Linked DNA regions of Homo sapiens: region 1 is linked to region 2. Evidence: fine-mapped expression QTL. A gene starts in region 2. The other region holds a variant in brackets. All regions are shown on one strand. Distances are between the middles of the regions. Region 1 overlaps FRMPD4 (FERM and PDZ domain containing 4). Region 2 holds the start of FRMPD4 (FERM and PDZ domain containing 4).

Region 1 (4,394 bases), 250 kb before region 2:
TTTTTCATTTTTAATCATAAATTGACCATTTATAATTGTATATATTTATGGGATATAACGTGTTATATTTATGAATACAATGTGGAATAATTAAATCAAGCTAATTAACATATCCATTACCTTAAATATTTGAATATTTGAAATTTACTCTCAGCAAATTTTGTTGTTGTTGTTGTTGTTTGGTTTTGTTTTTTTTTTTGAGATGGATCTCTTTCTGTCACCCAGGCTGGAGTGCAGTGGTGAGATCTCAGCTCACTGCAATTTCCACCTCCCAGGTTCAAGTGATTCTCCTGCCACAGCCTCCCAAGTAGCTGTGATCGCAGGTATGCACCATCACGCCTGGCTAATTTTTCGTATTTGTAGTAGAGACAGGGTTTCCCCATGTTGGCCAGGCTGGTCTCAAGCTCCTGACCTGAGGTGATCCGCCCACCTCAGCCTCCCAAAGTGCTGGGATTACAGGCGTGATCCACCGCGCCCAGCCACTCTCAGCAATTTTGAAATGTACAGTACACTATTATTAGCTATATCCACCACACTGTGCAGTAGATCTCACAAAATAACTTATTCCTCGTGTCTGAGATTTGTACCCTTTGACTAACATCTCCCTGTTCCTCCCACCCCTCAGCCCCTGTAATCACCATTCTACTCTGCTTCCATGAATTCAATTGTTTTAGATTCCACACGTAAGTGACAACATGTGGTATTTGTCTTGCTGTACCTGGCTTATTTCACTTAGCATAGTGTTCTCCCATTCCATCCATGTTGTCAAAAATGACATGGTTTTCTTCTTTTTTAAAGGCTGAATAGTACTCCATTGTGTGTATATATATATATATATATATATATATATATATCACATTTTCTTTATCCATTCATCCGTTGATGGACACATAGGTTGATTCCATAACTTGGCTATTGTGAATAGTGCTGCAGTGAACATGGGAGTGCAGGCATCTCTTCAACAAAGTGATTTAAGATCTTTTGGGTAAATAACCAAAAGAAGTGGGGGTGGGATTGCTATATCATATAGATATTTTATTTTTATTTAGTTTTTTTTTTTTTAATTTTTTGAGATGGAGTCTCACTGTCACCCAGGCTGGAGTGCAGTGGCATGATCTTGGCTCACTGCAACCTCCACCTCCTGGGTTCAAGCAATTTTCCTGCCTCAGCTCCCCGAGTAGCTGGGACTACAGGTGCACGCCACCATGCCCAGCTAATTTTTGTATTTTTAGTAGAGACAGGGTTTCACCATATTGGCCAGGCTGGTCTCGAACTCCTGACCTCGTGATCTGCCCGCTTTGGCCTCCCAAAGTGCTGGGATTACAGGCGTGAGCCACCGCACCCAGCCTATTTTTAGTTTTGTTAAGAATATATCTTGCATCTACAAATTTGAATTGATTTTTTAAAACTTTTGAATTAAAATCTAGTATATACAATGAAGTACATAAATCATAAGTGTATAGCTCAGTGAGTTTTTACATATGTATAGACCCTTGTAACTAACACTTTTGCCAAGATATAGAACATATCCAGCACCCAGAAGTTTCCCTCTTATGCCTTCCCAGTGAATACCCAGTTCTCCCCGGAAGTTTTCATTATTCTGACTTCTGTCACCATACTGTATGACAGTAGTTCATTCTTGGCATCACTGTACAGTATTTTACTATATAACTATACTACTTTTTTTTTTTTTTTAAGATTGATTCCCATATCCTGGAGGTAAGGCTAGCAAAGGAAGAGCTGCCACAGTGGTAACTGAGGTGGTCAATGGCCAATTACACCACTCACAGACATGGACGCTGGCTCTCAGATGTGCTAAGACCACAACCGAGACAAATCTATTGTATGCCTGAGAAAGAATGGAAGGGGAGAGAAGGGGTAGAAAGTATTTTAGGATTTCAGAATTTGTCTTATATCATATACCATCCTGCTCATCTAGTCCTCAGAGACTTACAGGAAAAAAAAAAACAAACAAAAAACAGCAGTCCCTGACATGATACCCATATATCAATTTAAGAAGTTGCATTATTAACATAATTTTTATTAAATCTCATCTACAAGAGGGATTTCCGGCAAGATGTTGATCCACGATGAATTCATTTGAATTATGCATTTCTTATTGACCTGATTTCAACCTCTCTCTTCAATCGTGACACCTTATTAAAAAGCTTTGTTCATCGACATAACTTTTCTTCTGCCTCTGAGTGAGATTCATTTCACTCTATAATCAATAAGACTAGTGTTCCATTGAGCATCTTTCAGGCAGTTGCTTTGACATTATTTAATCTGTCTTAGAATTTCTTAGAGGCTTAGGTTTAATGCCGTAAAATAGAAATAAACAGCCTTTAATTACCAGGTCTGCGTGAAATGGTGTTAACGCAAGTTTAACATATCTGTGGCCCTGAGAATGTTTGTGGGATCCAAAACAGTGAAAAATATTTATGAAGGTTTCAT[T/G]TGCAAATTTTGTTACTAAAAAGCTTCCTAATATCATTAAACATTAGACATTCATCTCACTCAGAGACAAAGAAAGGATGGCTTCCCTATTGTTTTAAGATTTCTTAACTCGGTAGTTAAAAGAATAGAGCAACCAATGAACACAAAGTTAAAACTAAATACAGTAAAGAAAAATAGCCTTCAATAAAATTTAAAAAAGCTTCTCTTTATGTTTTGTTTGCCAAGAATTGCATACTTTGATTTCTTTCTAGTATAACTACTAACTGTTCAGCAAATGCTTTTCTTCTGATATGGATGAGAACAAAAAACAAATTGTCCGTAATGATTCTTTAGGGTCAGCCTCTCTGCCTAGCCCCCACCCCGCCCCATAAGGCTAGCTAGATCTCTTTATAACAAAATAATCTCCTTTTCTGATGACAAATTCTTGCCATTTTATATATTTATCATCATCGCCACTTGTTACTCTTGATGAAAAGCCTTTGTCCTTCAAGCTGCACCTCTTTTTTCTATCATCCACTGCCAGCCCCTTTGTAGCCAGTGACATATTAGGTAAACACACAAGAACTGCTAAGGCATTTTCATGCAAAGATGATGATAAGTCGGCTACGGTAAAACAAGCAGAGGAGCAGATAATTCATTCTGGTTCTTTTATTTCCCGGAAGCAAACTGAATAGGTAAAGAGTGTACCAATTCAACAAGCAGTCAGCTATGACGTACAAACTCTGAGAGGGTTAGATAGACCCCAGAATGCTTTGAGGATCTCATCTATCAAATTCAAGGCTGAACCACAAAAATTAGAAAAAGTCCCTCCTAATCAATCCATCCACATACTTTCGTCCTTGGCTGCTCATAAATTTTCCTCTGTTCACCCACTGCATAAACCATTTAGTCTGTATTTGGGTGCCAACTCTCCCAAGCTTTTCTCTATCATGTAATTTTCCACAGAAATAGGTTGTTGCTTTGTACCTCATCATTTGAGAGGGTCATTTCACTTGGTGGAAATTTCAGCTGCACTGAGCTCCTTCCAGATGTTATGAGATTTAACTCTGAACACCTGGTTTCACTCTGAAGGGCTGGGATTTGTTTCCAATTATGAGGCAGATAGGGGTGTTCTTTATGTGATTTCCTAAGTAAGGTTTTGCTCCTGGGAAACTTGAAAATCTTCAAGTTCAATGAAGAGAAGCAAGAGATGGGTAATCTCAAAGCTCACCTGAAAAGCAGAGTTCTGCTTATTTGTGCACATTCCAAATGTGTGATAGGACTGTCAAAGGAATGATTTTAAAGGCCTTGGATTGCAATTAGGAGGAAACTTACTGTGAGAAAAACAAAGCACTATCTTAAACTCCTCCAAACAGCTTTTTCAAACAAGGTTCCCTCTTTCTCTTTGGACTGCTTTATTTGTGGGTTAAGGTGCAGGTTCTTATCTACCATTTTGCTCAGTGACAATCTAAATTATTCTTAGAAACTCTTTGATTCTCCTTTTTCATTGTTTTTAATTACATGTTAATATACTTTCCTTAAAATTCACCAAAGCCTCTTGTTTTAAACATATTTGTGAAATATGCAATTTTTGGTGTAGTTCAGTTCCCTCTTTAAGACTCAATGTGTAACGGGTAAACTTTTGTTGATTGGCGTTTCCACTCGGGAATGATTTTATTATAAATTCAAGTCCACTTAATTACTGACCTTGTGACAATTATACAGAGTAACTGAAGGACTGACCTTGTCCCTTGGTATTACTGAATAAGATCTATATTCTCAGCAGTGTGGGATCACAGGCAGCAGGTCAGAAGGGGACTTGCCCTCTCTACACCAAGCTGCTCTAAGGTTCCGTTGCATAGACACGATGGGAAACACAGAATTTCTTAGTGTGCTCTTTAAACTGCCTAGCCCCACAATGTCATGTGATTACACTGAAATTCTGCACTTAAGGCCATTCA
Region 2 (4,394 bases):
AAATCGAGGCTCTAGATGTTTTGTTAAACTGTTTTTAGCATCTGAGGCCACCAAAAAGTATCCTGGTTACTTTGAACTATACTATTGGTTGAACTTCCCTTTCCCTTTAGCAGTATCTCTGTCCATCACACGGAGGGTACCACTTAGCCTCTAAACTTGCACACAGCTGCTTCCCAACCATGGTTCAATATTTGACAGCTGTTTAGAAACTAGCCCTAGGCAGAAGCATGCAGGAAGTTAATAGAATAGTGGTGTGAAGCAATGGCCCTCTATGAGATCAGCTTGAAAGCAAACAATTGGCCACACCACAATCATCCACTGCTTAACACATCAGTCTTCTGATCTGCAGGACAACACCTCTTCCTGAGCTGCTCTAAGACACAGGTATTTACCCATCAACTGCGTATCTCCAGTCTACTTAGAGTAAGCTGCACTGGGCCTTTCTGCCTGGGGAAATCTGCTAGTGGCATGAAGACTGACCCATGTTAGTAGAAAGGGAAGGTGGAGATGGGCAGGCAGAACAAAGACCTGTAGATGTCGGAGAGAATGGCAACATCCAAACAGAACCTTTCTGAAGTGGTCTAATGTAATTTAATAAAGCAAAGTCAACATACGTTTCTACCTCTGACTATTGGAAGCTGCTCATCCCTGCCTGATGCAATCAACACATCTCACTCTGACACTCAGGACTGAAGGAAAACCTGGGATTATTCTGTCCATATTGCAAGTAAGTTTTTAAGCTACATCCTGGAAAAACCCAACTGTCTACCTCCTACGTCCTGGTGGTAGCTGCTATAAAGAGCTCCAGGGGCAGAGAAGGTTGGGCATGGTTTTCTAAGACCACTCCTATTGGGCTCTTCCCAATTAATGCCACATAGCAAGCAGCACAAACCTTACTCTGTGGCTCAAACGAAGACTTTGGAAGCATAAGCAGGGCAGAAGACCTGGAGGAGTGCTCTGGCCAGGCAACACCTAGGCGGCCCAAGCGTGGAAATGTTCCTCTTTTATCAGTACTACCCAAAAATGTCTGAATCGATGATTTAGTTTTAGCTACTGTTTTAACAACATGGCCACTTAGAAGAAAATTTCTAAATCTTTCGAGGCTTAAGAATATAGTTACCCCCCCCCCAAAAAAAAAAAGGCTGAAAGTCTTTCTCTTCTATCTACATGACTTCGCCATCTAGGTTACCGTTGGGAGCACCTGGTCAATCTAGGAGCTGACTTTGTGGAGGTGTGGAGGTGTAATTTAGGAGTTGGGGGAAGGCGGCACTTTTGGTCTTTGCAGCTTGGAAGGCAGGCACCCAAGCTCCAAGCACTTCTGGGTTTCCCTAGCAGTAGCAATTACAACCATCTTCTCTTAGCCCTGAATTATACATGGGACCCCAAACACCGCTGGGGCTTTTCCTTAGGGAAAACAAACTGTCGTGAATGTCGGTGTGTTGGTGAGGGCATGTATGTACCTCTCTGTGTGTGGTCTACACCCGCCGCTACACAAGCCTCAGCAGCCAGTGAGAAATAAGTTGAACGTGGAAGCCCCCGGCCACTTCGTTTGTCTTAAGCCCCGTCGCGCTTTCCAGCTTTTGCCTCTACCCAGCCTCCCGAAAAATAAGGCACCAAGTTGCCCGCGGCAGCGGCCCTGGGTGCAAACGGAACCCGCGCAGCCCCTACCTCGAAAGCTTTGCAATCTTCACAAAGCTGAAGACATCCATGCAGGCAGCTGGGGACCCCCGAGCGCGACAACTCCGTCGCCCCTTCTCACGCCAGCAACAGCAGCCTCCGCAGCCCCATGGCCAAGACCTCAGTGCGCCCGGGGCTCGAGTCGCGGCGACAGCGGGTGGCGGCGGCGGCCGGAGAGAACCTGCACCTGGAGGCGGCGGCTGCTACCCCCCTCCGGCCGCGAGCTGCGTGTGCATCCCCGAGCAGGACCATTGATAGGCACCCGAGGCAGGAAAACTCAATGGAGAGGGAGCCAGGCAGGGCGCAAGAGGCGGGGGCGGGGAGCGCGGCCCGGGTCTCGCGCCCCGCCCCGTGCGCTCTAGCCCCGGGGACTGCCGGGCGTCCAGAGAAAGCGAGGCCTGGGCGAGAGGCGCTGCTCTGGCTTCCCGGCCCTCGGACCCTCGTGCCCCACGCACCGAGGAGCGCAGACGGAGCCGGGAGACGGCAGGCGAGCTGGGCACACGCGCACGCACCCCTCGCAGCACTGCAGCTGCCTCCCTGCCTCCTTCTCCAAGCCGAGTCCCTGCTCCTCTCCCCACCCCCACCCGCCCGGGGGGAGGGGGCACTCTCCTGTCACCCACTGCGTGTGCCTCTAGATCTGAAGGATCTGGTCTAACAGTCTATGGCACACTGGAGAACTGTGAACGCTACCCCTCCCTCCCCAAGCCGAAGGAGAGCCGTGCAACCGCAGGTTGCTCAAAGCCTCGGTTTGCTCCGTAAACAAAACTAGCGTTCGGAAGGAGCAGGGATGATTGAGGTTGGGTCGTTTGTCAAGGGGAAGGGAAGGGAGATGCCAGGCGCAGCGGGCTCGATTCGGGGAGCTCAGAGTTCCCACTGCTTCTCCCGAATCGCTGGGGCGAGACGTGACCACTGGGCTGGCTGGGAAGGTGTGTCTTTGGACAGCAGCACCGCGGGAGTGTCTGCCAAATAAGAACCGGAGGCATTTGCGGGTAGGGGGATGAACACAGCTGCTCCCTCCTCGAGGAGCATAGAGCGGAGGGTCCCAGGAGCCCGTGATGCGGAGGCTAATTCTAACCGGGCTCAGAATCTAAGGAAAGAGAAGGATTAGAATGGGGTCTGCCACGCAGAGCGAGCTGCTTTTGCACACTGAGCCTTGGGTGAAGGGAACAGGGAAGAAAAAAACAAAACAAAACAAAACCTTGCCGGAGAAGCAAAAACACAGAAACATAAACACTCACCTTAGGCAGAGTAAACTCCAAGTTGCAGCCATCTAGAACTCCTCCTAGCCTTCTCTTTTACATAATTACCTTGGATAATCAGCCCTGTTCATTAACTCAGTTCTACCTCCTGGGAGGCTCAGGCTTCATTGGGCCCCTTTTTCTTCTTCCTCTTGAAGTCTCAAGGCCTCTTCTCCACAATCCTTTAAAATTTCCCCCCAGACTGTGAAGGTCAGCTGGCCGCACTAAGTGTGTGCTCTCCCACCGGCAGCGTTCACCTGGCGGCAGGGCCACCGCAAAGAACAGAGAGCACCCCCAGAAATGTTGGAAGATCCAGCCAGTGTTCCAGTCTAGCTCTCCGAGGGGATTAAGAAAGAAATAGGTTTAAAGTTCCCACACTTCTGCTCCTCTCCTGGTCTGTTGTTATATTTAAAGTCTTCAGTATTCAAGCCTAGTACTAAAGCGTTTTTTTTAAGCATTTATTTCAAAAACTGAACATAAAATAAATAGCAATCTGCAAAATCTAAATGACTTAAAACTCAGGCATAAAATTACATGTTTTTGAATACATAGTTATCAGTTTTCCTGCAGCTTCTATTAAACAGGCTAGTTTAATTGCATGAACGCAGTTACTACTCAAGGATCGGAAGGGGCGAGAGGGACCTTGGCTTTTGAACTCTATTGTTTGTAAAATAATTATAGTTTGGGTCTGCACTGTGCTTTATAATTTTTAAAGCTTTTTTTTGCATTGGAGTCTCATCGCAACCTTTTCATATAAGGCAATATATTTAGAAATCTTTTATTTTTATGCCATAATCTATTCTCAACATACCAGACAAAAAGATGTTTTGTGTGTGTGTATGTGTGTGTGTGTGTGTGTGTGTGTGTGTGTGTGTTTTAACGTAGATCACATAAGGCTACTTGTCTGATCTAAAATATGTAAAAGCTCCCCATTGTCCGTCAAGCTAAAGTTGCGCTCCTGCAAGGGCCAACAGGACCCTAGATCCCGTATCCTTTGATCTTTCTTACCTCAACTATTACTGCCCACTTCCCTCTCCCGTTTTTCTCTGTCCCTCCTCATCCCCTACCCCGAGCCCCTCCTCTCTCACACACATACACTCACTGGGCTCCAGCAATTCTGGACTTCTTGCTATCCTTCAAACTCTACAGGTAATCTTCCCACCTTAGGCTCTTTGCAATGGTTGTTCCCTCAGCCTGGAATGCTCTTTCCTGGGATATCTGCATGGCCGGCTTCTCCACCCTGTCAAATGTATGCACCAATACCACTTCCAAAATGCCCCCTCTAGAAAGCCAATTTAAAATTGCAAAAGGTTCTCACACCCTGGACTCCGAGTCCCTATTAACTGTTTTATTCTTTTTTCTTGTTTCCATAGCATTTATCACCCACTAGCACACTATATAATTTATTTTTATCTTTAGGATTTCTTTTTTTTTTTTTTGGTCTGAATCTCCCACTGGAGCTCCACAAGGGCTGGGATC

Evidence for each region. PIP is the estimated chance that this variant, and not a neighbour inherited with it, causes the effect. A credible set is the group of variants that fine-mapping cannot tell apart.
Region 1: its variant is the best candidate, but not a certain one, in a credible set for the expression of FRMPD4 in fibroblasts (GTEx, PIP 0.85).

Annotation. Positions count from the first base shown.
Region 1 is chrX:12,385,279-12,389,672 of GRCh38, reverse strand. The region is part of intron 1 of FRMPD4 (FERM and PDZ domain containing 4); the gene reads right to left. Among named protein-coding and RNA genes, the nearest start is that of FRMPD4-AS1, 12 kb to the right of the region's middle. The variant T/G (reference allele first, on the strand shown) is at 2,455.
Region 2 is chrX:12,136,287-12,140,680 of GRCh38, reverse strand. FRMPD4 (FERM and PDZ domain containing 4) reads right to left here and starts at 2,208. Exons shown (of 17, transcript NM_001368397.1): 1 at 1,669-2,208. The coding sequence starts at 1,709.